Homo sapiens: one gene and its partners. The protein of the gene in region 2 interacts with the protein of the main gene of each other region in a pairwise test. Each region holds a gene or a part of one and is shown on either strand. Other genes may lie near its edges.

Region 1 (5,221 bases), on a different chromosome or scaffold from region 2:
CACAGGGGGAGGAGTCCTGAGGTGGGAAAGTGTTTCTGGAAAAGTTGCCCACTCAATTTGACCAAAGCATGGAGTACTCATGGTAGGGCGTTCGTGGATGTGAAATTGTGGGTACATTGGGGAAGCATCAAATGGCAAGGGTGAACACTTTACACTTTTGGGGGTATAGAAAAGGAGAGATCAAGGATTTTGAAAGTTTTTTGAGTGGGGCAGTTGCGTGACTGGAGACAAATCTGGAGAAGGTGTGGCTGGAAGTATATCGGAAGAGCGAAAGATAGGATATGGGAAAACCAGTGGCAAGGGGGAGCCGTCAGTTGAGTAGCCAGCAGAGCTGCAGCCTTGGAGGGGAGAGGAAGGATTTGGAAGAAGTCTGAGCATGGATTAGATGAGAAGGGCTGTGAGGGAGTTTCTGAAATCGCTGGTCCTAGCAATTGAATGCAGAGCCCATGCCACCACAAAACAAAACAACACAAAAACAAAAACAAGGAGGAGCTGGTTTTTAGTCTGGGGAAGGAGGGAAGATGATCCCAACATTTTGGAAACGCTGAACTTGAGATGTTAGAGGGTGATCTGTTGGGAGATGCTGTCCAGCTGCAGGCTGTTTTGCCTGTCTGTTTTGGCACGCTTGCCCTGAGGCAGAGAAAAGAGGAGGAGATCTGGACCAGTTTAGCAGACAGGAATGTGCAGGGATTCAGAGCACGTTTTGGAGAGAGATGGAGCCAAGCTTAGATTCCTGGCCCTGCCATTCAACGTCTGTGAGGATTGGGCTGTTGATGTGACATCACTGAACCTGTTTCTCCAATTGTTAAGATGGAGACAGCCTCAGAGACTCGTAGGAGGATCAATTAAGTTTACTAATTGGGTACCAATGTTATTAATATCATTGTTTTCCTGAAGGCTATATTTCTTTATTTTTCAGACAGAGTCTAGCTCTGTCACCCAGGCTGGAGGGCTGTGGTGTGGTGTGATCTCGGTTCACTGCAACCTCCACCTCCAAGGTTCAGGTGATTTTCCTGCCTCAGCCTTCCAGGTAGCTGGGATTATAGGTTCCTGCCACCACACTCAACTAATTTTTGTATTTTTAGTAGAGACGGGGTTTCACTATGTTGGCCAGTCTGGTCTTGAACTCCTCACTTCGTCATCCACCCGCCTCAGCCTCCCAAAGTGCTGGGCTTACAAGTGTGAGCCACCGTGCCTGGTCTATTTTATTTTCATTTTTTTGTAAACTTTTATTTGCATGTTTTGTTCTTCATTTCTTAGCAGTAGCCTGTATGCTATCAGCAGGGAGAGAGTCCAGGCTAGCATGTTACATATTAGAACAATGTTGCACCCAAGAGTGGCTGCAGGAAATGTCCTCCCATCAGACTCATATTATGTCCAGAAGAGTTACTTTTATATATGGGGTCCTCTCAGCTGTTTGACAGAAGAAATAATAAAGAGCTTCAGATTTCGTTTTAGAATGACACGTCAGCTAATACACGTTTAGGCTTATCTTCCAATTTGCAGTTTTTGGCATTAAGCTTTTAGAAACTTTACCAGATTTATTTTATGTTTCTTGAATTCTCTTCTCCACATGACCAAGGAGTGAAATTGCAAGTTTGTTTGCATAAAAGAAGCGCAGACAGCCACGTTCCATCCTGTTTACCAGTTTAGGCCCCGGTGAATGCAAGCAGAGGCAGGTATTTGTGACCTTTGAAAGCAGCTCTCACTAGCACCTCTTCAATGTATTTCTGAACCTTTGGATGTTCCTGGCTGGGCAAATGGTTGATTACCATGGAATCAAGCAGTAACAAGCCAGTCTTACCTTTGACTTTAGTGATAAGGATTAAGTAATAATCTCCCTCCCTTTTGGTTGAGCTGCGTGTTCCGAGCCCGAGTCTGGTTCTTCTGTGTGCTGTGTGAAGTGTTGCTGCTGCAATCGTGTTACTCAGTCACAGTGACTTCGGGAGGAGATGGTCCTAAGTCAGCAGATCCAGGCAGCCCTGGAGGGCTCTAGTTCTGTCAGCCCCTGGCTCCAATCCTTGTGTCCTTCAGTGTTTTAGAGATGCTGTGGAAGGCAGCCTCCCCCAATCATCACAAATCTGCATGTTCAGTGTCACAAAGTCCATGGCTGTGAAATGGTTCATTCTGTTTTAGAAACCATTTGTAAACTTGGAAAACAATGCTAAAATTTAATTAAAATATCCAAGGATTTCAAAATACTGGCCACATTAATCTATGCTTCTAAGGTGTTCTCCATCATATGAATTAAAATGACTTAGAGCTCTTTAAATTTTTCAGTGGGATTTACAGTAAAAGTAAAGAAGAGATATTATAGGCAGTTTCTCCAGTTGAGTTCTGCTCCCCAAACTCCAGGAAGAGCTCCTTCGTATCTCTGGGGCTGGAAAGGGAAAGGACACAGAGACTTCAACCCTGCCTGGTGCTTTTCCACTTTACTTGGGCTGCAGGGCCAACTAATTTGAATAAAATTGAAGTGAAATGTCAAGAACATCTCAAATAAATAATATTCCCAGTGAGATTTTATCAAATGTAAACTTGGAGCACTTTTTTCTTCTTTTGCCAGTTCCTTATTGGCTGTCCTCCAAGAAGTTGCCTGCAAAACTGGTTTAGAGATACCTCCCCTTCCCCCAATCCCCAGATCAACCCACACTTACTTAGTGGATGCCTGCGGGGCTCTATTGTCATGTGGCTGCCTTGGTGGGGAGTACTATGAACCAGGTGCACCGCGCGCATTATCCATGATCCCCACAAACATGGCCAGAAACAGCCACTCAGGGGCTTTGCACAACTTGATGTCACATCATCAGTAAGAAGCAAAGGCAGAATTTGAACTGAGGTCTTTCTGGTGCTGAGTTCTTGCTTCTCCGCATGGTTGTGTTATGCCAAGGGAGCTAGAGGTGGAAACGGTAATATTTCTTGCACACTTGCCTATGCACCAGGCACTTTTCTGACCACTTTACCTGTATCAACTCAGTTATGCCCCCTCTCTGTAGACTATGAAGCAGACACACTACATTCCCATATTGCAGATGAACCAGAGGTCACAGATGCTAAGTGACTTTCCCCGGCTGCTGAGCATGGAGCAGAGCTGGGATTGGAACCCTGGTGGTGTAGAGTGCCAGCCTGGGGCCTTGACCATTACACTCTAGTTTCCTGAGGAACCGGGTGAAAGGCCATTGCATTTGTCTAACGCTAAGTTTGCACAGCAAACACACTTTTACCAAGAAGCTATGCTAATCTGGAGGGTTTTTTTCAGGAGTTGGGAGTGTTGGATGGTAGAGGTTATGCAGGCAGGCATTACCAATACCACTGGGTCTAATGGAGTTTATGATCTTAGGAATTCTTGGATCCTTTTATTACTCTCTAAATTTATTCATCCATTTACATTGAGAACTTACTATGTGCAGGCATTGTTCTAGGTGCTAAGGATACATGGTGAACAAAATATTCTTTTTTCCAGGATCAAGACTGATAGGTCTTTCTTCCTCCAGAGGCACATTCAGATGTGCCATGTTTATGTAAGAGTTTCGGTCCCCTTGGAGTATACACTCGGCATTTACCTGGTGCCCTGTACTTTTGCTTCAGACCTCACTAGAAAAACCTCTGGCTGCCTGTAAGGTTCTAATTTCGAATGTCCCAGGTAGAGGGCTGTGCCATCCTCAGGATGGCCCAACAGGTGAGGTGAGCTCAGAGGCCCTCCACTCTTGGCATTCTTGTACAAAGCAGGTTGGGCCCAGGCCTCTTAAGATCGAGGTTTTAGGTAGCATTTCCAGGGGTGGCAGCCCTGTCTGTGCCCTCCCTCCCAGTGGCTCTTAGAAGAGAGTGGGCCATTCCTAAGGCCATGAAGACAATGCCCCATAAAGGTCATGCTTCCATGCCTGAGGGCTCTCCCGGTCCTCTCTTGGTGGGGGTTGAGAGACTAGACCCTCCCCCCTACCTCCCCAGGAGTGGGGGTTATGTGATGTCACCAATGCTGGTGTCTCACTCTTGCACACATTTTCCAGGCTCCTGGCACCATGGAAGATCTCCTGGAGGCTGGTGCCTTCAGCTTCAGGCTCTGATCCTTCCTTGTTGCTTTAATTATCCGTCTTACCACCCAAATCAATTAACAGGCTTCCTAGTTAACAGGCTTCCATTTTCTAGGCCAAGGCTTGAGAGGTGAATTAGTTCTTCCAAGCAGCTGTGGTTTTATTTCCAGAAGCGCCCCCATATCAACAGCTGTGCCTATTCAATGGCCATGGATCTGTGAAGGGCACGAGCAGGACTCATGCTAATCAGCTCTGCTTTTTCTATATTAAAAAAAACCTTTGGCCAGGTGTGGTGGCTCACGCCTGTAATCCCAGCACTTTGGGAGGCCAAGATGGGCGGATCGTGGGGTCAGGAGTTCGACACCAGCCTGGTCAACATGGTGAGACCCTGTCTCTACTAAAAATACAAAAATTAGCCAGGTGTGGTGGCAGGTGCCTGTAATCCCAGCTACTCGGGAGGCTGAGACAGGAGAATCGCTTGAACCCGGGAGGGGGAGGTTGCAGTAAGCCAAGATCTCGCCATTGCACTCCAGCCTGGGTGACGGAGCGAGACTCTGTCTCAAAACAAACAAAAAACAACAACAAAAAGCCTTTAATTGAAATTACCCAATAGATTGCATGTAATATATACTTGTTTTATAAACTTGATACAACATAGAACGAGATTTTAAAGTATTTAAATATAGTGTGAATCATGATTAGTGTTTCCTCATCATTGTTCTCTTTGCTATTCTCAAGAAAATCTCAGCTTCAACTTGGATATATGGAAACCAAATATCCGGGTCTCTGGAACAGTGCAATTTAAAAGCATGTCCTAGAATTTTCAGCCGTGGTTTGAAAGCCACCTATTGATTCACACATGCCTGGAAGTAGCTGACATTTGTGCAACACTGTGCCCTGATTCGGCTGGGGCTCTGGGGTTCTATGCAGCCCGTTTGGCCTCCTTGCTGTGAGGTGCGGGGCATTTAAATTCTGTTGCCAACAGTAGCGGCCAGTGGTGCTCTGGCCTCAGCAGGTGCCCTGTTCTCTTGTTTGCTGCCTGCTACTTCTCAAGGAAGGCCTCAAGCCACTTTGCTCCTTATGCTCTGACATTTCTCCTCTTAGGCCCAATACAGAAAAGGTGGAGAAAACCTCACAATGTTGCCTTTCCCCTCTATGATAAATTTTTTTTTTTTTTTTGAGACAGAGTCTCT
Region 2 (5,221 bases):
GCTTCTGCCAGTGGGATTTACCTATTTTAAAACCCACCTGAGCTTTGTCCTAAATAACTTTGCCCATGCTGTTCAGAGTTGACTTTTATTCTTATAGAACCCTGTATCAGATTGGATTTTTTAAAAATTTCAATGGATGCCATAATCAGAATGAAGAGATAGAAATAGTCTCCCCAAAAGTCTTAGCTACCACACTAATAACTATTGCTACTTTAAAATATCTAATTTTATTTGGAAAATATTAGTTTTTTCTGTCTAAATTTTCATGTACTGACTGATATGTGGTAATAAGCATGCCAGGATTTATATGAATTTGTAATTTCTCATAATATTAACTTTTGGAGCCAATTGTTTTCTTAATTATGATTACCTCGACTGGGTACTTTTTTGCTTATTTAACATAATATCCTTGATTTTAGTTTTTATTTATTCTTGGACATTGTTCAAAGCCCTCAGCTTTTGTGAAAAGCTTTGTAAAGAAAAGACAGGGAATCTAAGCCTGAGATTTATTTGAATACATGAACATATTTCCCTGTGCTCTCTTGTTCCAGGTTTTCAAATTAAAGCTTTCACAGCACTGCGCTTCCTCTCAGAACCTTCTGATGCCGTCACAATGCGGGGAGGAAATGTCCTCCTCGACTGCTCCGCGGAGTCCGACCGAGGAGTTCCAGTGATCAAGTGGAAGAAAGATGGCATTCATCTGGCCTTGGGAATGGATGAAAGGAAGCAGCAACTTTCAAATGGGTCTCTGCTGATACAAAACATACTTCATTCCAGACACCACAAGCCAGATGAGGGACTTTACCAATGTGAGGCATCTTTAGGAGATTCTGGCTCAATTATTAGTCGGACAGCAAAAGTTGCAGTAGCAGGTAGGTGGATTCTTCCTTCTCTTCCTCCTCCTCCTTCCTCTCTTCTTCTTATTCATTTTTGGGGATGAGAAAATAATTTTTGTAGAAATAATGTACATTTTAAAAATCTTTTAAATTTTAAGTTGACAAGTAATTATATATTTTTATGAAGTACAATGTCATGTTTTGATGTATGTATACATCGTGGAGTGATTATATCAAGCTAATTAACATATCTGTCACCACATACTTCTCTCTTTTCTGTGGTGAGAACATTTAAAATCTACTCTTTTAGCAATTTTGATATATACGTTGCTGTGCAATAGATATTAAAAGCTTATTTCTTCTCTCTCACTGAAACCTTGTGCCCTTTGACAAACATCTTTCCATTCCTTACCACGCCCCATCTTCCCAAGCCTCTGGTAACCATTCTGCTCTCTAGTTCTATGAGTCTGACTTTTTTATAATAGATTCTACCTGTAAGTGAGATCATGCAGTATTTTTCTTTCAGTGCCTGGCATGTTTCCCTTAGCATAATATCCTGTAGGTTCATCTATGTTATCACAAATAACAGGATTTACTCTTTTTAAAGGCTGAATAGTATTCCATTGTGTGTGTGTATGTATATCATATATACACACACACACATATATATATATATCTCATATTTTCTTTACCCATTCGTGATTGATTCCACATCTTGGCTGTTGTGAATAATGCTGCAATTAACATGGAGTATAGATATCTCTTATATACCCTCATTTCAATTCCTTTGGATATATACCCATAAGTAGGATTGTTGTATCATATGGTAATTCTAATTTTAGTTTTTTGAGAAAGCTACATAACCATTTTTCATAATGGCTATCTAATTTACATTTTCACCAACAACGCACATTTTTAAGAAAAAGGAAAGATGTAAAAAGATTCATGTTTATTCTGTCATGGATTTGACTGACCTTTCTCCTTAAATTATCTTAGAAAACAGTCATAGGACCTCAACTGGCTGCGTAAAGTTATGAGATTATTTTTTTAAACAAAACTGTTTCAAGTTGACTTACTACTTATATCTAAGGGAGGACTTCTCATTAACAGAAAAATATTAGAAAATATAATTTGCTAATTTTACTTTACAGCTTCATTAAATGCTAAACTTTTGCAGAGTCCATTTTTTTGTTGTGGGGCCTTAAGAAGAGTAAATTTTATTTTAATTATAGTGGCATGGCCTACAACATATACATGTCAAGTAAGAAATAAAAATTCCTTCTAGTGCTTCCAAATTTCTTAACGCTTGGTAACATGTTGGCTCAACAGCTGAGTAATAAGATGAACAGTTTTTGTTTTCACCTGGATACACTGAAGTCATGTAGACTCTGAAAAAATGGTACTGACCATTCTGGAACCCATGATATTGCTATTTCTGCCCCACTCTTCTGGTTAGAAGGCAGCTCATAATTATTTCTGTTGGCCCCTGAAATGTTAGACCTGCAAAGTGAAGAATCAGTTTTTTTACTTGTTTCTATAAAGATTTGACCAAAACCTGTCTTTTTTTTTAACTTTTATATTGACCATAAAGCAAGGCAAGCAGATTGAACTTGAAATAAATTTAAGTTATGAATGGGTAAGCAGATTTGAAGGGCTGCTTTCAACGTAATCTTTAGTTCTCAATAAAAACAATATTGAATCATAGGCTGTTTAGTCATTTGTTATGGGTTTTCTTTCCCAGGTCCTACTTAGTCTAGTCTCATCTTGGAAGACTGATCAGAATAACTCATTTTCATCAATAACAGGACAATTGGGCAGAATCACCACTCCTTCATGCACTCTCCTAGTGAGGGTCTGAGAAAGTTGAAATCTGAAAGATGTGATTTTGTCAGGTGGTGCTATAAAGAATTACATCTCATAGATATGTGGTTAATTCCCATATGTAGCTTCAAACCACTCTTCTGTAGCTTTTCTCCACTAAGAACTCTGTAGACTGAATGTTTTTTCTCCCTAAAATGTGTATATTGAAATTCTAACCCCCAATGTGATAGCACTGGGAGGTGGAGCCTTTGAGAGATAATTAGATCATGGGGTGGAGCCCTCATGAATGTGATTAGTGCCGTTATAAAAGTAACCACAGAACACCCCTGCTCCTTTCACCATGTGAGGATACAATGAGACGTCTGTAATCTGCAACCCAGAAGAGGACCCTCATCAGAAACCAATCATGCTGGCACCCTGATCTCAGATTTCCAGCCTCCAGAACTTTGAGAAATCAATGTCTGTTGTTTACAGCCTACCCAGTCCAGATACTTTGTGATAGCCACCCAAACTGATGAAGGCAGAGTTTTCCATAGTCAGTTAAGCCAGATTTTACCTAGAGGTAGACTGGCTAGCCATTCTGCTTTTCTTTGGACTGACTTGGCTTTTGCACTTGAAAGTCCCATATCCTGGGAAGCCACCTCAGTGCCAGGTAAAACCAGGACAGTGGGTCACTCTACCTCAAAGTGTCCCTGGTCTGCTTTAGCAATGACAGACTGAGGTGCAGATGCAGAAAACCCCCTCTACTCAGGAGACAGGCCAGGTGACATCCTGATGGTGAAAATCAAGGCTATAAAGTAACTGGAACCTTGGAGTGATGAGTGTCTGAAATTTGATTGATGAGTATAAAGTGTAGAGAGAACTGAATGTTAATGTTAATTATGATTGATTAGGAGAAACAAGTGGAATAAATCCTTCAGATTTGGTAAAAGCAGCTTTCTCAGAATGCTCCAAATGAAGTGGAAAGGGGACAATTTGACTTTCAGTCACTAGAGAATTTCTGGCCTCATAGATCCCACCCATCAGTTGTCCACAAGGCCAGAGGAGGTCTGCTGATTTGAATGAAGCAGGCTGATATTTTGATGCCTTATTATGAAAGGCAGCTGCCTATGCACTGTTAATGAAAATGGCCTGTTACATTGCAGTTTCAGTCTTCATGCAATCTACATTCACATTTACATGTGCTGTCTTTCAGTAGTGAAATGAAGAAGAGTTCCTTCGCTGTGAGATATTAAAATACAGTGGCTTGGACTTTAGTATTCTGTACAAGGATAGGCACACGGATTCAGTCACTGAGTTAAAATCTCATATTAGATTGTATCATTTCAAGGCAATAAGGCTGTTCACAGCATTTTAAACACTTACCATGCTGTTTGGCAACACAGAATACATCAATGTTATGTCTGCTGAGGTTAAGATTGCCAAACCACTAGAATTCACAAGGGGCATATATCTTCCCAGTAATAAAGACCATGGACCTGATTTAATCTCAGTTTTAAAGCATTAGCACTCAATAAACCAGTCACCACTAAATGGTAACAGTAGGCTTTGCTTGGGTAAAACAACAACAACAAAAAAATGTTTTGTACTCTCAGGTGCTGTATAGAGCCCATATTAAATAATGTCCCTCTTCCATTTTTGCTTTCTCAAAGTGTCTTTTGATAAAAAGAAGTGTAGCAAATGAAATCTGTCTTTAATCAGTCAGCACATTTTACACAATGATCTTGCCATGCACCATTCATCCTATTTTCTAGGAGCTTCTCAAGTGCTCTTAAAGGCTTGAGTGCACACTTGGCTGGAGAGGGAAGGAAAGTAGGAAAGATAAACGAAGAACTATCATTCCATCCAACATTTTCTTAAAAGTTGCAAAGTAACAGGCTACTGACTCTCAGTATTTCTAGTCATTTTGAGTTCTATCAGTAAAGAATACCTGGGCTATTAAGCCTCCATTTGAAAGCAACTTCATCATACTGGCTGAAATTTGGGAATTTTATTTTTATCCAATTAGCTCTAATCTAAAATGCTGCAGTGTTTCTGTGCCATGTATACTTCTATTTAGTCCTCTAGATTGAGAACAGCTGAAGAAGGGAAGCAGCGCTGAACTTATCTATGAAGCTTTCCTACCATCCCCTCTACTGTGTATCTAGCAAAGTATGTCATGTTAATAGTAGACATTTGCCTTACCAATGAAGACCTGGGGCTTTATGCCATATAAAGAGAGCTTTCCGCTGTTGCCATCCTCCTCTCTACCTCTCCTTCTTTGTCTCCCTTCTACTCCTCCTCCTTCTTCACTGGATTTCAGCAGATCAAACTCACCCATATATGTGCATACATAAACATACTCTTAACAAACTGAGTTGGAATAATTTGCTTTATATCTCAATAGCCTACAAATTAATTAACTATTGAAAACTTTGTGATTAGAAAATTGACTGTTTGGGAATATTCAAGTGCCACTTAAAAAGGAAAAAGCATGAGCATTTCTTCATTCCTTCCCTAACCCTTACCGTGAAAATGAACTTGCATCTGGCCAAGCACATCTTCCCTACTCTAAACGTTGCCAG
Region 3 (5,221 bases), on a different chromosome or scaffold from region 2:
AGATGGTCATTGGAAGCCAAGGCAGCTGCTGTCTGCAGCAGGGCTGCACCCCTGCACAACCCCAGGGGGCAGCCTTCATGCCACAGTCCTGGGATGCCATGACCTGAGCTCGTATAGCACCAAGGTACTGCTCTGCTGCCCTCTGCAGCTGCATGGCCTCTGGCCTCTCTTCATTCTGCGTGTCTGCTTCCTTCTCTCTCAGCAGACCAGCCTCTGTCCATTCATTCATTGGACATTTAGGGACCATCGAAGCTGTTAGAATGGAGACCTCAGCCCCTGAGTCTTGAGCCTTTCAGTGAGTCTTCCCACCCCACCCCTCATGTTCCAGTTCTAAATTCCCCAAAGAAAAAATCTGATTGGCCCAGCCAGGAATAATTTCCACTTCTGGTCCAATTGGTAGGGGACGCAGGGAGGGACTGGGGTTAGGGGATGAGGTCACCTGGTTCACAGGGCTATCTCCCCTCCAAGACTGTGAGGGACTGTCATCCCCCCGCTCCAGCCCCAGCTATTTCAGTAGAAGCTGCATAGTTGCAAATATTTTCCCAAAGCAAGTTTTCACTCGATTTAATTTAAACACACATATACCTAAGCAAAATTTACATAAGCCATGCTGCTTTTTTTTAGAATAGGTGGTGTGTGACATTTATTTAACACAGAATCAACATTCAGTGTCCTTACTCAAATTTGAGTGGTTCCCAAAGGTAGATATTTTTCATACTCTATTTCCAGCCTAAAATTGGGTGAAATTGAGCATGTGTATGTACAATTCCTGGGAATTAAGAGTTAAACTCCAACAGTAATGCCTCTCAGTCGAAGCCTCCTTGGAAAATATGTTCAGATTTCATGCCACACTAAACGTCTGCCACAGGTCAGGTCTGTAGAAATTTCATTCATTCAACAGTCTGACAAAAGCCCCTGTACTTCTCATTTGTTTGAACATGTTAAAATCCAGAAGAAACAAAACCTGCAAAGCCTCTTCTAAGAATAGCTGTGAAGGGAGCTGGAAGCTATGAGATCAGAATGAATAATAATTTTTGCATTTCACACAAAAGCCAGGTAGGAAGTAAAGCATAATGGGGGCCTCTTGGATGCCAGGTGTTTAACACCTGATGGCATCTAATCCTCACAAAAACCTTCACTGGTGCCACCATGCCCAGATGAGACATGAGAGGGTCTGAGAGGCTGAGGAACCTGCCCGTTGTCTCACCACAAATGCTGACCCAGCCAACTGCTCACCCTGGCCCCCCGCCCCCAGCCCCCAAACCCAGTCCTTTCTACAACCTGCTCTCTCTCCAAATAGCAGTAGTCAGAGGCTGTGCTGAGGCCTCCCAGAAACCTTTCCCCTATGTGGATGTAACCTTCTCGAGACCTGCTTTTGGAGTTCAACCTGTGCTGAAGGGGCAGAGAAAAATCCTATGGCAGGAGGGGCACTTGAGATAAGCCTCATAGGAGGAGAGAAGCTTCTCCCTGTGTGGAAGGAGGCAGCACACAGGCCACAGAGAGGCGCAGAAGGGACAACTGAGGCCAAGAGAGGCGGAAGGTCCCCAGACGGGTTTTCTAAAATATCTTTCTCTGAATAGCATTTTTACTTAAATTTGATATGCAAATGCAGATAATTGGTATTCATGTAAATATTTACTGCTTAAAACAGAAAGTTACTTGTAATAGGCCAGGCACAGTGGCTCACGCCTGTAATCCCAGCACTTTGGGAGGCTGAGGCAGGCAGATCACGAGGTCAAAAGATCGAGACCATCCTGGCCAACATGGTGAAACCTTGTCTCTACTAAAAATACAACAATTAGCTGCCTCAGGAGGCTGAGGCAGGAGAATCACTTGAACCAGGGAGGCAGAGGTTGCAGTGAGCCGAGATCGCACCACTGCACTCCAGCCTGGTGACAGAGCAAGACTCCATCTCGAAAAAAGAGAAAGTTACTTATAATAGAAAGCCTGTTCAAATGTGGCAAGTGCAACGTATTCTTTTGGAGGCTCTAAACCCAAGCCTGCAGGTCCCTGATACGTCTTCTTTGCCATCTAGTGGTAGCCATTAGAACTGCATGTGTGGGCCCGGCGCCGTGGCTCACGCCTGTAATTCCCGCATTTTGAGGGGCCGAGGTGGGTGGATCCCTTGAGCCCAGGAGTTTGAGACAGCCTGGACAACATGGCAAAGCCCTGTCAAAAAATACAAAAAATTAAAAAAACGAAAAACAAGAAACAACCTAACAACCTAGCCAAGTGTGGTGGCACATGCCTGTAGTTCTAGCTACTCGGGAGGCTGAGGTGATAAGGAGGCAGAGGTTGCAGTGAGCCATGATCATGCCACTGCACTCTAGCCTGGGCAACAGAGTGAGTCTCTGTCTCAAAAAAAGAAAAGAAAAGGAACTGCATGTTTGATGTCTCAAGATGACAGACCCTGCCTCTAAGGCAACAAATCCAGCTTGTTTAGTGATGGTCTAATGCTAATTTAGAGCAAATGTTTTAAACCTATGAAAATAAGTACAGTGCTCTAAAAGTGGTTTGTTTTTCCCCCATCAACACACTCCTTTCTTTGCAAGCCTACCTGGGCCCTAAATGCCTTAGGTTCGAATTCAGCCATACACCTGAGCAGTTAGTAAGCCCTAGCAACCAGCCTCAGATAACTGAGTTTTTAACATGTGCTGAAGTCTAAACCAATGCTGGCAGCTAACTCCCTAGACTGAGGCCATTCTGAGGCTCAGGGGGAACAGGGTGGGATAGAGTGGAGAGAGCACTGGGCTAGACTTTGGGAGCCCTGGGTTCTGTTTCCACTCTGCCACCAACTGACTATGTAATGTTGAGCAGGTAACTTCTGCTTTCTAAGCCTTGGTTTTTCCACCACTGCAATAAGGAGTTTGTTTAGACCAGAGATGACCAGTAGGAAGCAGCTACCTGGAGCCCTGTCCTGAGAGAGTTTCTGAGGCAGCCTTCAGACTCAGTGGGAAAGAGTACTGTGATCAATTACTTATGTCTACCATGGGCTTAGACAAAGGGAATGCTGCCATGATCAGTTAGTTATGTCTGCCCTGGGCACAGACGAAAAGGATAGAGGCCAGTGTATCTCACGTTTGCTATCCTTGAACTCAGTGACCTATGGAGGTCCCTCCCCACCAGCTCTGAGAGAACGGAGCTTCCTATTTCCCAGGAGACCTGTGACTGTTCTCTTCATCCACTCAGCTTCGACTTAGGAAGGTTTTGTACAAATATCTGAACCAAATTTGGGAGAAATTCCTTCCCAATCTACTGGGGAAAGAGAAGGGATATTTCTTTTTTCTTTTGAGATTCAACCATGTTTCTAAGAGTTGTGAGCCTCAAAAGAAGGTGGAGGTCATGAATCCAATCTAGAGAGAACCCAAAGAAGCATAAATATCTGGATGAGGGAATGTGTTCCTTAAATGCTCGTTATGACCAGAGAGTCAGAGGCTTTCTAAAGCGACATCTCTCCAGGGTCCTCTGAGGAACATTCATTCTACTAGGCCCCCATGGGTGCAATGGACAACAGGGGCTCTGTGGACCCCCTGGGCGACCCTGGGTTAGAGTCAGCCACACAGCGTTTTGTCACCACAGGACTTCTCAGAGGCTTTACTAAGACAGTGTGTGTCATAAGCCTCTCAGGGGCTAGAATGGGCAGCATTCCCCAGATATCTTTGAATATAGAACCTTGTGTTCACCTAGCATCTTGGGAGACCAGTAGTCCCTGGAAGACATTTTTGGAAAATGACTTCTTGGATTGGCCCGGGATGAGAGCTGCCAGGGAAGATGGGAGAAGTAGAGAAAACAGTACTTATCCCAGGAAGACTTCCCTGCTCAGCCCTGTGGGTTTTTGTTTGTTTCTTACCCATGATTTCATTAGAGCCTTATGCTAACTTGGCGGGGAGGGGAAGTAAAGGAGAAAAAAAGCTATGTGCATTGAGCACCTCCTAAATGCCAGGCAGTGAGCGAGGCAAGGTAGGTCTGTCTCAAGATGCCTCTTGGCCCCGGGGGGATAGATATTGTTAATCTCACTTTACAGATCATGAAACCAAGGCCCAGAGAGGTTAGTGTACTTGCCAAGGTCTCAAAGCCTGTGAATACTAAGGTGAGGATAGCTAACATTTATAAAGAGCTCACTGTGTGGCAGGCACTGTGTGGGGCACTGAATGAGCTCTGTTCATCCTCAAAATAGTCCTGTGATTATTATGAGACTGAGGCTTACAGGGGTTCAGTAACTTGCCCAAGGTCACCCAGGAAGCCACAAGATCAGGATTTACCCAAGCAGCCTGATTTCAGAGCCCCTGCTCTGAAGTGACCCCCATTGCTCTGGAAATCGCCGGTCATCCTCCCCAAAAGAGCGTTTATCTCACCCCAGGTGCCAGGAGCACAAATCTGGTTAGGGAGTGGGATTGCACTGATGCTCACATGGAAGGACTTTCCCCCTGGAACCCAGGAAGCCACCTCTGCCATGTGCTGCCTGGCAGGGCCACGGCTTCTGTAATCACTCCAGGCCTTCCCTACTACTCCAGGCTGGCGGCCATTGCCCTGCTGGTCCTAGAGGAGGAGGAGAGCGCCTTCTGGTGCCTGGTGGCCATTGTGGAGACCATCATGCCCGCTGATTACTACTGCAACACGCTGACGGCATCCCAGGTAAGTGGGGCCAGGAGGGGACTTTGCAGCCATGTAGGGCAGTGCCCCAGAGCTGTTCCTAGAAGCCTGTGACTCTCAGGAAAGTTGGGAATCTCTCGGGCTTCCATTTCTCCCTCTGCACTGTGGGAGTGCATTTGGCTGCATGGAAGAGAAGCCCAACCTAACAACAGCTTCAATCGGGGATTATTATTCTCAGATAGTGAATGACAAGGCAGTACCGCAGGGTTCAGGCTCCTAGCTCCCTGCTCTGCCATCTCTGGCAGGTGGCCTTCATCCTCACACCCATCACCTCCTGGTCACAAAATGGCTGCATCGCCTCCAGCACTGTGGGCATGGCCTAGGCCAGGAGAAGCAGAAGGTGAACACCAGGAGCTGGCTCCCTGACCCAGCAATTTCTACTTGCAGTTTACTGGTCAGAACTATTTCATGGCTGCCCTAGTTGCAAGGCAAGTTAGGAAATGTACATATTTAATTTTTACATCTTAACATCTCTGAAATTGATGTGTGTTATATGACCCTTTTTTCCATATTTTATTATGGAAAATTTCCCACATTCAAAACGATAGAGGGAATAGTATAATGAACC
Region 4 (3,986 bases), on a different chromosome or scaffold from region 2:
CACAGGACCACAGGACCGGGGCGAAATTAAAAGTGCTAATGAAGTTTCGGGCACACGTTGTCATTGATAACATCTTATCAGGAGACAGGGTTTGAGAGCAGACAACTGGTCTGACCAAAATTTATTAGGTGGGAATTTCCTCGTCCTAATAAGCCTGGGAGCACTACAGGAGACTGGGGCTTATTTCATCCCTACAGCAGTGACCATAAAAGACGGCCGCACCCGAAGCGGCCATTTCAGAGGCCTACCCTCAGGGACGCATTCTCTTTCTCAGGGATGTTCCTTGCTGAGAAAAAGAATTCAGCGATATTTCTCCCATTTGCTTTTGAAAGAAGAGAAATATGGCTCTGTTCCGCCCGGCTTACTGGCAGTCAGAGTTTAAGGTTATCTCTCTTGTTCCCTGAACATTGCTGTTATCCTGTTCTTTTTTCAAGGTGCCCAGATTTCATATTGTTCAAACACACATGCTCTACAAACAATTTGTGCAGTTAACGCAATCATCACAGGGTCCCTGAGGTGACATACATCCTCCTCATCTTACAAAGATGATGGGATTAAGAGATTAAAGTAAAGACAGGCATAGGAAATCACAAGGGTATTGATTGGGGAAGTGATAAGTGTCCATGAAATCTTCACAATTTATGTTCAGAGATTGCAGTAAAGACAGGAGTAAGAAATTATAAAAGTATTAATTTGGGGAACTAATAAATGTCCATGAAATTTTCACAATTTATGTTCTTCTGCCATGGCTTCAGCCGGTCCCTCCATTTGGGGTTCCTGACTTCCCACAACACCAGTGAGTTGTTGCTTCATTACATCTGGCCTTGACCTGGGCATTCTTTGCATCAGTGCACCATGGCCATGCACAAAATTTTCTGAATCCTAGAAGAAAGGGAGCCATACTGTGGAATCATCTTTTACCTTACCAATGGGTTACCTTTTTTCTTCTTAAATAACATGGCTCAAAGATTGTCAGGGCTGCTGCAGATAAAATGAAATTTCTAGGCTTCTCTTGTGGGAAATAAATAATCAAAGAATTTAGCCCATTTGCTATATAGATAGCAAGTCTTCCAAAATTATGTCTGAAATTTCCATATCTTAATTACTTTGGGGCATAATTTACAGTTTATGTAATCCAGTATATGTGGACTTAATTGTATTTCTTGAAATATGTATATATATATGTATATATATATATATATATTTTTTTTTTTTTCGAGAGGGTCTCACTTTGTCACCCAGGCTGGATGGAGTACAGTGATGCAGTCACGGCTCACTGCAGCCCTGACCTCCCAGGCTCAAGCGATCCTCCTCCCTTAGCCTCCTGAGTAGCTGGGACTATAGGCACAGGCCATTACACCCGGCTAATTTTTGTATTTTTTGTAGAGACAGGGCTGGGCTATGTTGCCCAGGCTGGTCTCGAACTCCTGAGCTCAAGATACCTGCCCGCCTTGGCCTCCCAAAGTGCTGGGATTACAGGTGTGAGCCACTGTGCCCGGCCAATGTGTACTTTCTTGTCCCAGTTTTGTTTTAAAATCGAATTTAGAATTCTCTAACTTGATTTCTCATGATCTGATCCAATCAGGTTCTTTTATCATAGGTGAGATCAGCTGATTTGCCTAAGACCACACCACCCGATAGAGGAAAAGCTGGGAATAGTAACTGAGTCTGTTGACTTTCAATTCAGTGCTTTTCCCACGATGCTGTGTATAATTTTAAATAACTATACTGTAAATGAATCATACAATAATTCTTTTTTTTTATGATATTTGGTCCATCAGAAAAAAAATTTTTAATGAAAGAAATGTCATTTAATATGATATTGATATTTTATTCTGTTATTAGTTTAAATATGCATATACTTTATGGGGGTTGTACAGTAGTCATTATTACCTCATTTTATAATACAATGTTAAGTCTCAAATGAAACTTGTTTTTTAGTTAAAGATTTCCAGAGTGACTCCATTCAGAGTAGAAAAACTATAAGCTGGAGTGTTTTAAGATTGTTCAGTAACCGTTTTTCAGTTCAGGCAAGTCTAACCTGGGATGCTTAAGTTACTTTGGAATTGACTAAATAATTTTCCATCATAATGGATCAAAGAAAAGCTCCTTTGACTCCTCACTGCTCCCTCTTCTTCCTCTCTTCCTCCTAGGAGTGAAGTGCAACCAGTGGTCTGAGGAGGCTTCTATGGTGTTTCGAAATCATGTGGAGAAGAAACCTCTGGTGGCACTGGTGCAGACAGTCATTGAAAATGCTAACCCTTGGGACCGGAAAGTAGTGGTCTACTTAGTGGACACATCGTTGCCAGACACCGATACCTGGATTCATGATTTTATGTCAGAGTATCTGATAGAGCTTTCAAAAGTTAATTAATGACTGCCTCTGAAACCTTGACAACTAATTCAGATTTTTTAGCAATAACAAAATGTAGTAGGCTTAAAAAAAATCTTAACTCTGCTACATGGCTCTGACTGCTGTGGGGGATTGAAAAGAATATGCTTATGTTTGATGAAAGATATTTAACAAGTTTTGTTTTAACAGAGTTGACTTTTCAAAGAAAATTGTACTTGAATTATTACTATAATATTAGAATAAAAATGTTTATCAATATAAAAGCTGACTACCTTTTAATTTCTAGGCTTCATGATCTTAAGATGAAAGCTTCCGTTTCATGTTGTCTTCCTTGCAGAGCTGGGTTCTTCTCCAGTGAAGCTGAGACTATTATGACTTAACTCTACCCTGATGTAGTAGTGTATCTCAAAGCAAGTGATCACCAAAGCATGTGAGGACTTATCCTGAGTCTTAACACATCAGCATTTCTAGAGGAGCAGCCCAGGCAAACCAACGTGACCCTCAACCCAAATCTTGAGTGGCTTCTCTTCTCATTGCCCACAGAGTCCAGCTAGGACCCAGGCTTTCTACAATCCTCCTACCCAACCTCCTTATCTACCACTCCCTGCCACACTGTACCTTTATTTGGTCACTGAACCCCTGCTTATTCCATTCTGTCAACCTGCATCTCATTCTCCTCCCATCATTTTTGCTTGTCAGTGTCCTGCCTGACCTCCTGGGCCAACCATGAAGCTTTCTCTGGTACCCCTTTCTACTCCATCGTACTTTGATCATGCCTCTCTTGGTGCCCATATGTCACTGTGTTTTATAGTATATGACTAGTCTGTGCACCGATTACCCCAGCTAGATCATGGTCTCCCTGAAAGAGGGACGGGTCTTAGTCATCTCCGGTGATATACCAGTAAATGTTTGACAACTGGTTCTGTTGAGTGGGGAGCTGAGCCTTGATTTGTAGTGTCTGAAAATTCTCATATTGTAAATGGTCCCACCATTGTTGATTTTCAGCTAATAATATGACAAGACTGAATGTGGAGTTGGGAAGAGACTCACCTAAGCAGCTCTTGAGACCGCATATGACAGGCTCTCCAGCACACCACCGTCTGAGCATCCACAGCCGTCAGAATGGCATCTTACACACATCAGGCACTCCTTTTGTGCTTGCTAATTGATGGGCAGATAGATTGGCAGACAGGTTATAGGCTTTAGCAGTGGTCCAAAGATGAGGTGGGGAGGCCCTGGACTAAGAGTGGAGCAATGGTGTTGAAGAAAAAGTGTTGATGACCTTGTAAAGTTTTTAATTACAATTATTAGACAGCTTAGATACAGATTGGGAAGAGTGAAGCCAAGTCTTAAGGTATGAGAGCCTAGGACCTTACTCAGATGGAGTGGGGGAGTGGGAAGCTTAAAAATTTGATTTTGAACACACTGAATTTGAGCTAATAGACTTCCATGTGAAGATATGCAGAATCTTGGAAATGTGGAATAAACTTCAGGGGCAAAAACCAGGCTGGAAATAAAAATTCTCAATGTCATTTGTTTGTTTTTATTTGAGAAAAATCCAGAAACAAATGAGAACAGAAAGAGGAAGGTAGAGACCAAATATTTGAAGTTTTTCATTTTAAACATGTCAAAA
Region 5 (5,221 bases), on a different chromosome or scaffold from region 2:
TTTAAAACATGATTTCTGTTAATTTGTGGGAGATTGCATTTTTTTCCCCATCAGATCATTGTGGTAAAATAACTTGTGCTCTTTTCTTATTCCGTGGTTTGTTTTGTTTTGTTTTCTATAGGATTTTGTTTGTTTTTCACAAAAATGGTCATTTGAGCTGTAAGGCAAAAGTGCAGCCTCCTAGGCTGAATGGTGCAAAGACTGGAGTTTTTTCCACAAGGAGCCCTCATCGTCCCAATGCAATAGGACTGACCCTGGCCAAGCTGGAAAAGGTAGAAGGTAACCCATTTCATTTCTACTTTTACCTTTTTCCTCACCCAAAAAAGCCTTATAAAATAAACAGCATTCACCACTGGCTGTTTATTCAGACGAGTACCAATGATGTTAACTCCTGAGAACCACCAGACATTGAAGAAAATACAATGATTAAAAGAATGTTAGCATTGAAAAATGTTGAAATAAACTCATAGGATGCTCAGAGCTTGTTTATATTATTGCATATATCCAAAACTATTAAATTATTTAGAAATAACACAAATTTCACAATCATTAAATTAGTAACCAAAGTTTCTCTGACTTGGAATGCAGTAAATACAAAATGATTAAAAATAAATGGACACTTTCCAATTTAACACACAATAACTCATTGTACATGCACATATGGAAAACACATAGACTGGTGGTATATCATTCCTTCCTTGCAGCCTTGGGGAAATGGACAGATATCATGGCTGCAGTGCTGATGTCAACTGTGCTGTGTGGCAGGAGTCTGGGATGAATCACACTACAAGGACAAACATTGGTCAGGTTGTAGAAGTTTTAAACTAGTTTTAACTGTGTGTTCGTATATAACCTAGTTACGCATTTATGGAAAGCATTCCATTCTGACCTAACAGATGCATTTGTTATAGAGGCAGCAGATGAAATGGCAGGTAAACTAGGAGTCAAGAGACCATTCCAGGCTTCAGCCTGCTGGTTGTGAAGTGGGCAAAGGAGAAGGACCTGCTTCCTCTGTGATTCCACAGAATATTTTGAGAATCTTGTAAGAGAGAAGTTCTAAAACTACTTTTTCAGGCTATTGGACACTAAATAGATGAGAGCAGTTATTTTGCTTGTTCTTTCCCAGAACTTGAACTCTCCCACTGGATTGTACTCAACTGGGCCTTAGGTAGTTTTCTCAGAAAAATTCAGTAGCTGATCCACCTTGAATTTTATCAATTTGTAATGGCTAACAAACTTGGATAGCAAGTACTAGAAGATTTTATGATTATTCAGGGACATATTTTCTAGCACTGAATATGTGCCAGACATTGTCCTAGGTGCTAGAGCTATAGTGATAAACAAATCAGATGAAAGTAGAAATCCATGCCCTAAAGAACTTAATGTTTCAATTGGGAAGGTCAAGTCAGATAGGTTAAAAGGCAAACACAGTAGCACTGTAGACATTACTATATAAGCTTTATGGCAACTAGTGTTTGTGCAGTGCTTTACAGTTAGTAAACAGTGTTCACGTACCTTATCTCACAGTGGCTTTGTGGGTTTGACAAAGTAGCAATCCTCATCTCATAGGTGAGGAAACTAGGGCTCTTTAAGATTAGATAATCTGTCTAATAGCATCCAGCCAGGTGGTCATCTGACTCTAAATCCTTTGAAGTCTTACTTATGCTACAGTGCCTTTCTTTTTCCTACAGATATTGTTAGGCATAATTCATCATCTAGCAAGTCCAGAATCATCTTTCCAGAGTTCCAGCTCATTCATAATAACATGTTTCAGAAATCAGGGTCCTGTATTAGTTACGTTTTTCTTAAATGGAGACGGAATCAAATGTGACTGCATGTAGTTTTTCTGTTCTCATTTGGCCTATTTTCCAAGAGTAAGGTTAGTAGATGGCTATTTGTAGCAGTAACTGGACAGCATCTGTCCAGTGGGACAGCTGGAGACTTGTCTTTAGTATTTGGTAATGCTGACTTATGTGCTGCTTAATCTTTTGAGTCTTGATGGATGTATTAGATTTCTATTGTTGTGTAACAAATTACCACAGAATCATCAGTTTAAACAACACACATGTATTATGTGTTTGAAACATTATTATGTATCTGTGGGTCAGAAGGATGGGCACAGCTTAACTAGGTCATCTGCTTAGGTCTCACTAGACTGCAATTAAATTGTCAGCTGATATGAGTTCTTATCTGGAGGCTTGACCATGGAAGAATCTGCTTAAGCTCACTCAGACTGTTGGCCACATTGATTTCCTTGCCATCGTAGTAGGACTGGGGGCCCCAGATTCTTGCTGGTTGTTGGCTGGAGGCTGCCCTCAGTGTCTAAAGGCTGTTTGCAGTTCCTTGCTATGTGGGCTTCCTAGCACGCCTGCCTACTTCAGCAAGCCTTCAAGGAGAGTCTCTCGAGTGAGTCTTCCAGCCAGCAGCAGTGCTAATGAAAAGCATAGTCACTGGAGGGACATCATACCTCTTTTGCCATATTCTGTTGGTTAGAAGCCAGTCACACTCAAGGGGAAGGATTATATAAGGGCATGAACTTCAGGAGGTGCGGGTCACAGGGCCACTTTTGGATCTGTTTGCCACAGTAAGAACCTTCATTGGTCCCACAGAGATATACTGAGGACTACTATATCCCTGGAACAGAAGCACCAGTGATACAAAGATGAGTTGGTCCCAGCCTGTGTTAAGGGGCCTGCCTGCGTCTAGGGATGAAGACTCTAAGCAGGTCACTACCCTACCGTGGGGAAAGCGCTCTAGCAGAGGTTTGTGCACAGGCTTCTCTATGGGGACTGTAGGAAAGAATGCTTTTGTCTGGAGGAGCCAGAAAGGCTTTGTAAAAGGTGTGCTTTTGAGGGCCTCAAAGAGCAAGTAGGAGTTTGATAGGTAGAGAAGAGGATGGGCTACCAGGTAGCAAGAAGGGTGTGTGTTGGTACTAGGTCTGTGTGAGAGAATTATGAGTAAGTGCAGTGAGGCGTAAGCAGACAGTGTTAGAGGATTCTGGGGCGTGACTGTATTCTCCAAGTGTTTGCACTGTTCTTCATTTTTCACGTTTTTATGTCATAGGTGGAGCTATATACCTTTCTGGAATTGACATGATACATGGCACACCCGTACTAGACATCAAGCCCTACATAGCTGAGTATGACTCACCGCAAAATGTGATGGAGCCTTTAGCAGACTTTAATTTACAGAATAACCAACATACACCAAACACTGTGTCCCAGTCTGACAGCAAGACTGACAGCTGTGACCAGCGACAGCTCTCAGGGTGTGATGAGCCACAACCCCACCATAGCACTAAGAGGAAACCTAAATGTCCTGAAGACAGAACTTCAGAAGAAAACTACCTGACACACAGTGACACAGCCAGAATTCAGCAAGCATTTCCTATGCACAGGGAGATAGCAGTGGATTTTGGTTTGGAATCAAGACGTGATCAGAGTTCCAGCGTGGCAGAAGAACAAATTGGCCCATATTGCCCAGAGAAGAGCTTTTCAGAGAAAGGTACAGACAAGAAGCTAGAAAGAGTGGAAGGAGCAGCAGTCTTGCAAGGAAGCAGGGCAGAGACACAGCCCATGGCCCCTCACTGCCCTGCTGGAAGGGCTGATGGAGCTCCCCGCAGCGTGGTTCCTGCCTGGGTGACAGAGGCTCCTGTGGCCACTTTAGAAGTGCGGTTTACTCCTCATGCCGAGATGGACCTTGGGCAGCTCAGTTCACAAGGTATCTTCAGTTTCTTCATTCTGAATGAGAGATGAACTTTTACTTTGAGATTTAGCCAAGTTTGGTATTTGTGAAGGCAGGTATGTGGAGTGTTTGTCAGTATGACTGGTTTTTAGGAAACAGGTATAAAATAATATTTTTGCAGTACCATCATGTGATGACTTTTGTTGGACAACTGTGTGGTCAGCACAGTTAGTTCCAGGCTGTCAGTAAAGCATTGGCAGAGAGTGGCTGCTGCCTCACAAGGTGGCCTATGACTTACAGCCCCTTGTCTACTTGCTACAGTAGTTCTTAGAGTCTTCAAATATCATTCAGAAGCTAAATTGTGCTTGTTCTATACTTATGTACATAAAGTTTTCTTATTTGTTTTACTGTCTGACTTGAGAAATGTTGCATTGTATTCTGACTGTCAGGTAGTCGATAGCTCAGCCTCTGGCACAGAGGACTCTAGGAGCCCAGAGTCACAGGGGAAGAGTCTCTTAGCACAGAACTTGCCCCAACAAAGTCCCACTGCTAGAGGCATACACTTTGCTGCAGAAGAGAGGCCACAGGGCTCTTACATGGAGCCTGCTTACTTTAACACATGGTTCTTAACAAATGTTATCTGGTTTCCCCAGCCCACAGCAGATCCCAAGCAGTAGCCTAGGATGAAGGAAGGGGCTGTTAAGATGTGGATACAGCGATACCAGTAAGAAGTAACTAATTTCAGGCTGGGCACGGTGGCTCACTCCTGTAATCCCAGCACTTTGGGAGGCTGAGGTGGGTGGATCACTTGAGGTCCGGAGTTCAAGACCAGCCTGGCCAACATGATGAAACCCTATCTCTATTAAAAATCCAAAAAGCCAGTTTTGGTGGCAGGTGCCTGTAATTTCAGCTACTCAGGAGGCTGAGGCAGGAGAATTGCTTGAACCTAGGAGGCAGAGGTTACAGTGAGCCGAGATGTTGCCACTGTACTCCAGCCTGGGTGACAGAGTGAGACTCCATCAAAAAGAAGAAGCTGGTTGCCAAGGAGATGTCAGATTGCAAAAAGCTGTTCTTTGTGTTACAACTCAGTAAGGAGCCAGCATAACCATATAAAGAGGGAAGTTCATTTATTCATTCTACAGTTGTTTACTGAGCTTCTGCTAGGTACCAGACATTGGTCTAGGTTCTTGGAATACATCAGTGAACAAAACAGATATAAAAAACCCCTGCTGTCATGGAGCTTGCATTCTAATGGGGAGGAGAGAGACAAATTAAAAGTATAATAAGCAATCAAGTTATTAGACCAAACATATTCAACATTATATAATATTAGAAGGTGATAAGAGTTACTGAAAAATTTAAGAATACAGCAGGCTTGGAGTGTTGTTACTATTTTATTTTATTTTTGAGACAGGGTCTCACTCTGTCACCCAGACTGGAGTGCAGTGGCAAGAACATGGCTTACTGCAGCCTCAGCCTTCCGGGCTCAAGCAGTCCTCCCACCTCAGCCTTCTGTGTAGCTGGGACTACAGGTGTG
Region 6 (5,221 bases), on a different chromosome or scaffold from region 2:
ACTATATGTCAATTATACCTCAATAAACAAAGCATATATTGAAAGAAAGAAAAACAAAGGATGAAGAGGGAGGGCTTCTGAGAGGAGATGACATTGAGGTGGACCACATTGAGGGGAGGCCTGGAGGAGAAGGCTCTGGCTATGGGGAAGGAAGATGAGAAAACTGAGGCTCTAGGAGGTTTTGGGCTCAGGGTCAACTCAAGGGGTCAGGAGAGACAGCTCAGGGGATTTCTTGGCAGCTGGACCTGGGCCCAGGCTGAGGGCTCTGGCTCCTGTGATGTACTCTGCAGAGAGGCCAGTGGGGCGTTTATTATATTTTCCGGGGACGGCCCTCTCCCCTGTCCCTATGCCTATTTTCAGGGCTTTGGCGTTTGTAGAGGGACTATTTTAATCCATGTGGGAAATGGGTTCCTAAATATGGACTCAGTGGGGCAGAAGCCTTGAGAGGCTCCAGCTCAGGGCAGCTCCACCTGCTCCTCTACCTCAGCAAAGCACAGGATGCAGGCCCAGGCTGGAAGGCTCTCCAGCCCCTCCTTGGCCATCTACCGCCCTCCTTCTTTCCCTCTGGCTCCTCCTATCTCCCTCCAGTCCTGGGCCCATCCTCCCATCCTTTGTTTGCTCGGAAGCCCAGTGTTTCCTGCCAGGCCCCAGCCAGGGACCCCCAAGTGAACTTGACCTGCCTCTGCCCTCAAGCTGCTCCCAGGGTGGTAGGAGGAACAGAAGCAAAACCAGTAAGAAAGGTGCTGGGAGGGGCCGGGCGTGGTGGCTCACACCTGTAATCCCAGCACTTTGGGTGGGTGGATCACGAGGTCAGGAGATCGAGACCATCTTGGCTAACACGGTGAAACCCCATCTCCACTAAAAATGCAAAAAATAGCTGGGCGTGGTGGCGGGCACCTGTAGTCCCAGCTACTCGGGAGGCTGAGGCAGAATGACGTGAACCCGGGAGGCGGAGCTTGCAGTGAGCCGAGATCGTGCCACTGCACTCCAGCCTGGGTGACAGAGCAAGACTCTGTCTCAAAAAAAAAAAAAAGAAAAGAAAAAGAAAAAAAGGTGCTGGGAGGACTTTCCAGAGAGAGAAAGAGAGAGAGAGAGAGAGAGAGAGAGAGAGATGGAGACAGAGAGAGAGAGAGATTGATCGATCTGAATTGAGCCCTGAAGTTTCCCCAAAAAGAGGGAGTTGACCCAACAGAGAGGATGAGGCAAGAATGCACATGACAGGGACCAGCACAGACCTAGACACAGAGGCCTGGGGGAGTAAGGCCTGTTTGGGAACAACATATATATTTTTCTGGCCAGAACAAAGTGGTTTTGGCCCAGAGGTGGCAGGAAGTGAGGTGGGAAAGGAAGGCAAGCCCTGCGTGCTGGGGGAGGACATTTATCTGGAAGATGTGAGGAAGTGTCTGTGGCCACAGGTGGATTAGAGTCATAAGGGGAGAGGCAGGGCTGAGGACCCTAATGAAAGCATTCCAGCTGTGAGCTTGGACTTTTAAGAGAGAAGAGGAGGACTCTGATGTGGGAGTGAGATGCCACAAGGCAGGCAGTGAGGAGGGAGTGTGGGAGCCAGCCTGGGAGGCCTGACAGGAGATGGTCAGGTCAGACTGGGGAGGAGAGAACCAGGCAGGGGGAGGGGGAGGAGGCAAAGAAGGAACCCGGTGCAGGGAGGGAGGATGGTACCTCTTGGCTCCTGTGGCTGAGGATTGGGGTACCCCTAGCTAGGGCCGCCACAGGACATGGTGGAGGCAAGTGGGGGGCACTGAGCTTTCTGGTCCCAGTGCTGAGAAAGAAGCTGGTGATTGGGAATTGTGCGGGCACTAACCTGAGGGGTGTTCTGGAAGGCAAGGGCAGCATGAGCAAGGATCCATGGTGTCCAGGCAGGAGTGTCTGCCCACAGCAGCCTTGACGCACACCCCCAGCCTGCTCTGGGTAATGGAGCAGGGGCACAGAGCTGCTAGAGGGCTTGTCCAGCCCCTGGCTCTCTGTATTCCTTGCACTGCCTGTATTCCCAGGCTAGGGTTGAGGGGAGCAGCTCCAGAAAAGGAGGGACAGCCAAGGGGCAGCAGGCTCGAGAAACCACTGCCTGCCTCTCCCCTCTCTGGGACACTGCCCTGACCCAGTTTGTCTTTACCTAGAGAGCGTGCATGGTCACAGAGCCTGCCCCTAACAGTGCCCTGTGTAAAGTGGCCTGGCTCTCCCCATCCTGCAGAGGAGGAAATTAAGGCTGGGGCAGCCCAGGGTCCTATGGCTGCTGAGCAGTGCTGATCCGAGCCCCGGTCTTGAGCATCAGCCCTGGTCCCCAGCCCTCCTCCATTAGGAAACACAGTGTCACAGATGGTCCTTGAGTGAGCAACCCTTTTTGGGGGTGGCTTGTCCCTGCTGTCCCCATTCTGGGCCATCTCCTCATGCATGCTGACTTCTTCTTCTCCCCCTACAGCAGGGCCACTGTGAGGCCTTGTTCATTTCTGGTGCTGGTTGGCAGCCACAGTCCAGGGCTGAGTTAACCCGAGCAAGGATCCTGATGCCCGCCCACTGGATGCTTGCCTTGGCTGGGATGCACCCTGTGGGGATGACTCTGCTATTATACCATTTTACAGAGTTGTGGGCTGCAGCTTGGAGCTGTGAATGTATGCCTGAGGTCACACCGAGTCATTGGAGGAATTCAATCCCAAACCCACATCTCACTCCACTCAGCTGTCATCTCCCTCAACTAGGGTCCTCCCTTCCCCCAGTCTCTACCTCTGGGTCCTTACCGGTGATCTGTAAGCATGGAATGAGGGTGGAGGCTGGGCAGCTAGGTCACCTTGAGATGGCCCCACCTCTCTCACAGTGCGATGACATTGTCGCCCTGGTACTGCATAGCAGCTCCCAGGAAGGCTATAAAGTTACCTTGGGAGCTGGGTACTGACTGGGTGGTCATGACCAAGCAACTCATTTTAGAAGCACTTTTCTTGGTAGTGAGAGTTTTGTTCTCATGCCCACTCCTGGAGAATCTGAAGTCTTAATTACTTTTACCCCTACAGGAGTGTGGCCTTGTCTCCCTCCACTCTGGGCCAGTTTCTTTGTGGGAGATAGATTGACAGACACAGGCCTCAACCTCTCCTGCAGGAAGTCTTCCTTCTCACTCCAGCACTCTCCTGATCATGCTGAGTCCTGTAGGGCAGATTTGCGTGTTAGTGCACCCTCTCCCCTCCCCAGCCTTTCCCCAGCACCTTCTGCTTCTACACTTACATTTCTCATAGATGCCCAGGGTGAGAATCACAAGGGAGGCACCAAGGGCCTACTATGTACCAGGTGCTATCCTGTACAATTTACATGTACAATTTCCAACCCTAGCCTAGGAAATGGAACAGCTGTGTCATCCTTATGGTAAAAATGAGGCTCAAGGGATGTGTGGCCCCTGGCTTGGGGTCCCATGGCTGCTGTGTGATTAGAGTGGGGTTATAAAACCCACTCAATTTCCATCTGAGAAGGGAAGCAAGGGCTTCTTTGGCCTCTGAGCCCCTCGAAGCAGTCAGCCACCTCCTACGGACTCCTTGAACTACCTGCCAAGCTGCTTGAGCCCAGGACTGACCCTCAAGTCCAGAGGCTCACTGGACCACAAGTCAGAGAAACCTAGATTCAAATTCTCATTCTGCTCCTTATAAGCTGTGTGACCTGGGGCAGGTCACAGGCCTCAGAGCTTATATGTTTTTGTCTGCAAAATGATGGTAGAGGGCTCTGAGCCTGACACTTTCTATGTGCACCCACCTACAGCTCCTGTATGACAGCCCCAAGGCCCGGCAGGAGGTAGACCATCACTGGCAGGCTTCTGGCGGCCCCCATATTGTCTGCATCCTGGATGTGTATGAGAACATGCACCATGGCAAGCGCTGTCTCCTCATCATCATGGAATGGTATGCTGGCCTGCCCTGTCTCCACACCCCCTCGGCATCCCTGTGGCCCTCAGGCTCCCTGCCACGCTTCTAGGGGCTTTCTTTGTTTTTCAGGTAGCAGATCTGGGTGCCACTGTAGCCCCTGAGGGGCAATGGAGCAGGCAGCCGCAGGCCCTGCCTGTGGATCTATGGAGTTGGCCATAAGGACATTCCCTCAAGGGTGGGCAAGAAACCACAGGGGTTAATATGGCCTCCCTGAGTGTGATTTCTACTCTGTGAGGAGGACTGGAAGAGCTGTCAGAGAAGGCTCCCAATCCCTGAATATGGATGGATGGGGGATTTGGGGAAGAACAGGACCCACGCAGTTCCCTCAGCTTTCTCTCCTTTTGACCTGGGTATGTGCTCCCATGGTCCCACCAGGAACTGGGTGCTTGGGGCCTAGAACCAGGAGCCAGTGGCCTTTTCCACCCTGGGCTTCTTCCTGTAACACCATGGCTCAGCACCAGCCATCCTTGGACCGGTTAGCCAGTTCTTCAGATTTGGGGTTCAGATCCTGCCTCTGCTACCCACTAGCTATGTGACCGTGGGCAGCTCTTAACCTCTCTGAATCTCTGTAACTCAGATGTAAGATGTGGGAAAGATCTTAATGTAGCATTTACCCTGTGCTTGACTCCATTCTAAGTGGCCCATGTGTATTGCATATTCAATCTGCATGACTATGGGGTTGGTGCTGTCATCCCTATTATACAAAAGAGATAGCTGAGGCACAGAGAGGTGAAAGAACCAGCCCAGGATCACACAACAGCGCTCATGAAACGTGGATCCCAGGGCATGGCACACAGTAGGTGCCCAGAGAACAGTGGTCATATGATGATAATTAACATCTCATCCCACATTTGGGGAAACAGAGACTTGAATGGGGTTGGGAGTACCCAAGCCCTCACAGTCAGGTAGGGGCCGTGCCACTGGGAACACACAGGCTTCTTGGCAGGGATCAGAGCCCACCACCCTCTTCTAGTTCCAAGAGTTCAGTTCAACCCACCTAAGCTGACAACCCACCATGCACCAGGTTCTACAAGGGACAGGGAGGCTGACAGTGGCTGTTCAGTAGGGGAGGAGCGGAGCAGCAGGGTCTGAAGCCTGGGCCTATGATTTGGGGCAGGGGCAAGGGTAGGATGATGTGCAGTTTCCCCCTCTCTGCTTATAGTCACCTCTTTTACAGCATGGAAGGTGGTGAGTTGTTCAGCAGGATTCAGGAGCGTGGCGACCAGGCTTTCACTGAGAGAGGTATGTGCATGTAGCTGGACCAGCAGGAGGATTCAGGGTGAGAGGTATGGACCAGAGCGTTG

The links.
Region 1: the proteins of DCC (region 2) and FBP1 interact in a two-hybrid assay, tested with the Homo sapiens proteins (one large-scale study listed by BioGRID and IntAct).
Region 3: the proteins of DCC (region 2) and TBC1D2 interact in a two-hybrid assay, tested with the Homo sapiens proteins (one large-scale study listed by BioGRID and IntAct).
Region 4: the proteins of DCC (region 2) and TDRD7 interact in a two-hybrid assay, tested with the Homo sapiens proteins (one large-scale study listed by BioGRID and IntAct).
Region 5: the proteins of DCC (region 2) and TRMO interact in a two-hybrid assay, tested with the Homo sapiens proteins (one large-scale study listed by BioGRID and IntAct).
Region 6: the proteins of DCC (region 2) and MAPKAPK3 interact in a two-hybrid assay, tested with the Homo sapiens proteins (one large-scale study listed by IntAct).

The regions. Positions count from the first base shown.
Region 1 is NC_000009.12:94,628,368-94,633,588, reverse strand, and holds part of FBP1 (fructose-1,6-bisphosphatase 1), read left to right. Parts: intron 1-5,221. UniProt on the Homo sapiens protein: Catalyzes the hydrolysis of fructose 1,6-bisphosphate to fructose 6-phosphate in the presence of divalent cations, acting as a rate-limiting enzyme in gluconeogenesis. Plays a role in regulating glucose sensing and insulin secretion of pancreatic beta-cells.
Region 2 is NC_000018.10:52,751,503-52,756,723, forward strand, and holds part of DCC (netrin receptor DCC), read left to right. Parts: intron 1-551; coding exon 552-872; intron 873-5,221. UniProt on the Homo sapiens protein: Receptor for netrin required for axon guidance. Mediates axon attraction of neuronal growth cones in the developing nervous system upon ligand binding. Its association with UNC5 proteins may trigger signaling for axon repulsion.
Region 3 is NC_000009.12:98,202,702-98,207,922, reverse strand, and holds part of TBC1D2 (TBC1 domain family member 2A), read left to right. Parts: intron 1-4,495; coding exon of another isoform or gene 4,496-4,514; coding exon 4,515-4,635; intron 4,636-5,221. UniProt on the Homo sapiens protein: Acts as a GTPase-activating protein for RAB7A. Signal effector acting as a linker between RAC1 and RAB7A, leading to RAB7A inactivation and subsequent inhibition of cadherin degradation and reduced cell-cell adhesion.
Region 4 is NC_000009.12:97,493,510-97,497,495, forward strand, and holds the end of TDRD7 (tudor domain-containing protein 7), read left to right. Parts: intron 1-2,153; coding exon 2,154-2,374; 3' UTR 2,375-2,616; downstream 2,617-3,986. UniProt on the Homo sapiens protein: Component of specific cytoplasmic RNA granules involved in post-transcriptional regulation of specific genes: probably acts by binding to specific mRNAs and regulating their translation.
Region 5 is NC_000009.12:97,908,459-97,913,679, reverse strand, and holds part of TRMO (tRNA (adenine(37)-N6)-methyltransferase), read left to right. Parts: intron 1-121; coding exon 122-279; intron 280-704; exon of another isoform or gene 705-2,662; coding exon of another isoform or gene 2,663-2,762; intron 2,763-3,063; coding exon 3,064-3,720; intron 3,721-5,221. UniProt on the Homo sapiens protein: S-adenosyl-L-methionine-dependent methyltransferase responsible for the addition of the methyl group in the formation of N6-methyl-N6-threonylcarbamoyladenosine at position 37 (m(6)t(6)A37) of the tRNA anticodon loop of tRNA(Ser)(GCU).
Region 6 is NC_000003.12:50,636,613-50,641,833, forward strand, and holds part of MAPKAPK3 (MAP kinase-activated protein kinase 3), read left to right. Parts: intron 1-3,753; coding exon 3,754-3,893; intron 3,894-5,094; coding exon 5,095-5,159; intron 5,160-5,221. UniProt on the Homo sapiens protein: Stress-activated serine/threonine-protein kinase involved in cytokines production, endocytosis, cell migration, chromatin remodeling and transcriptional regulation.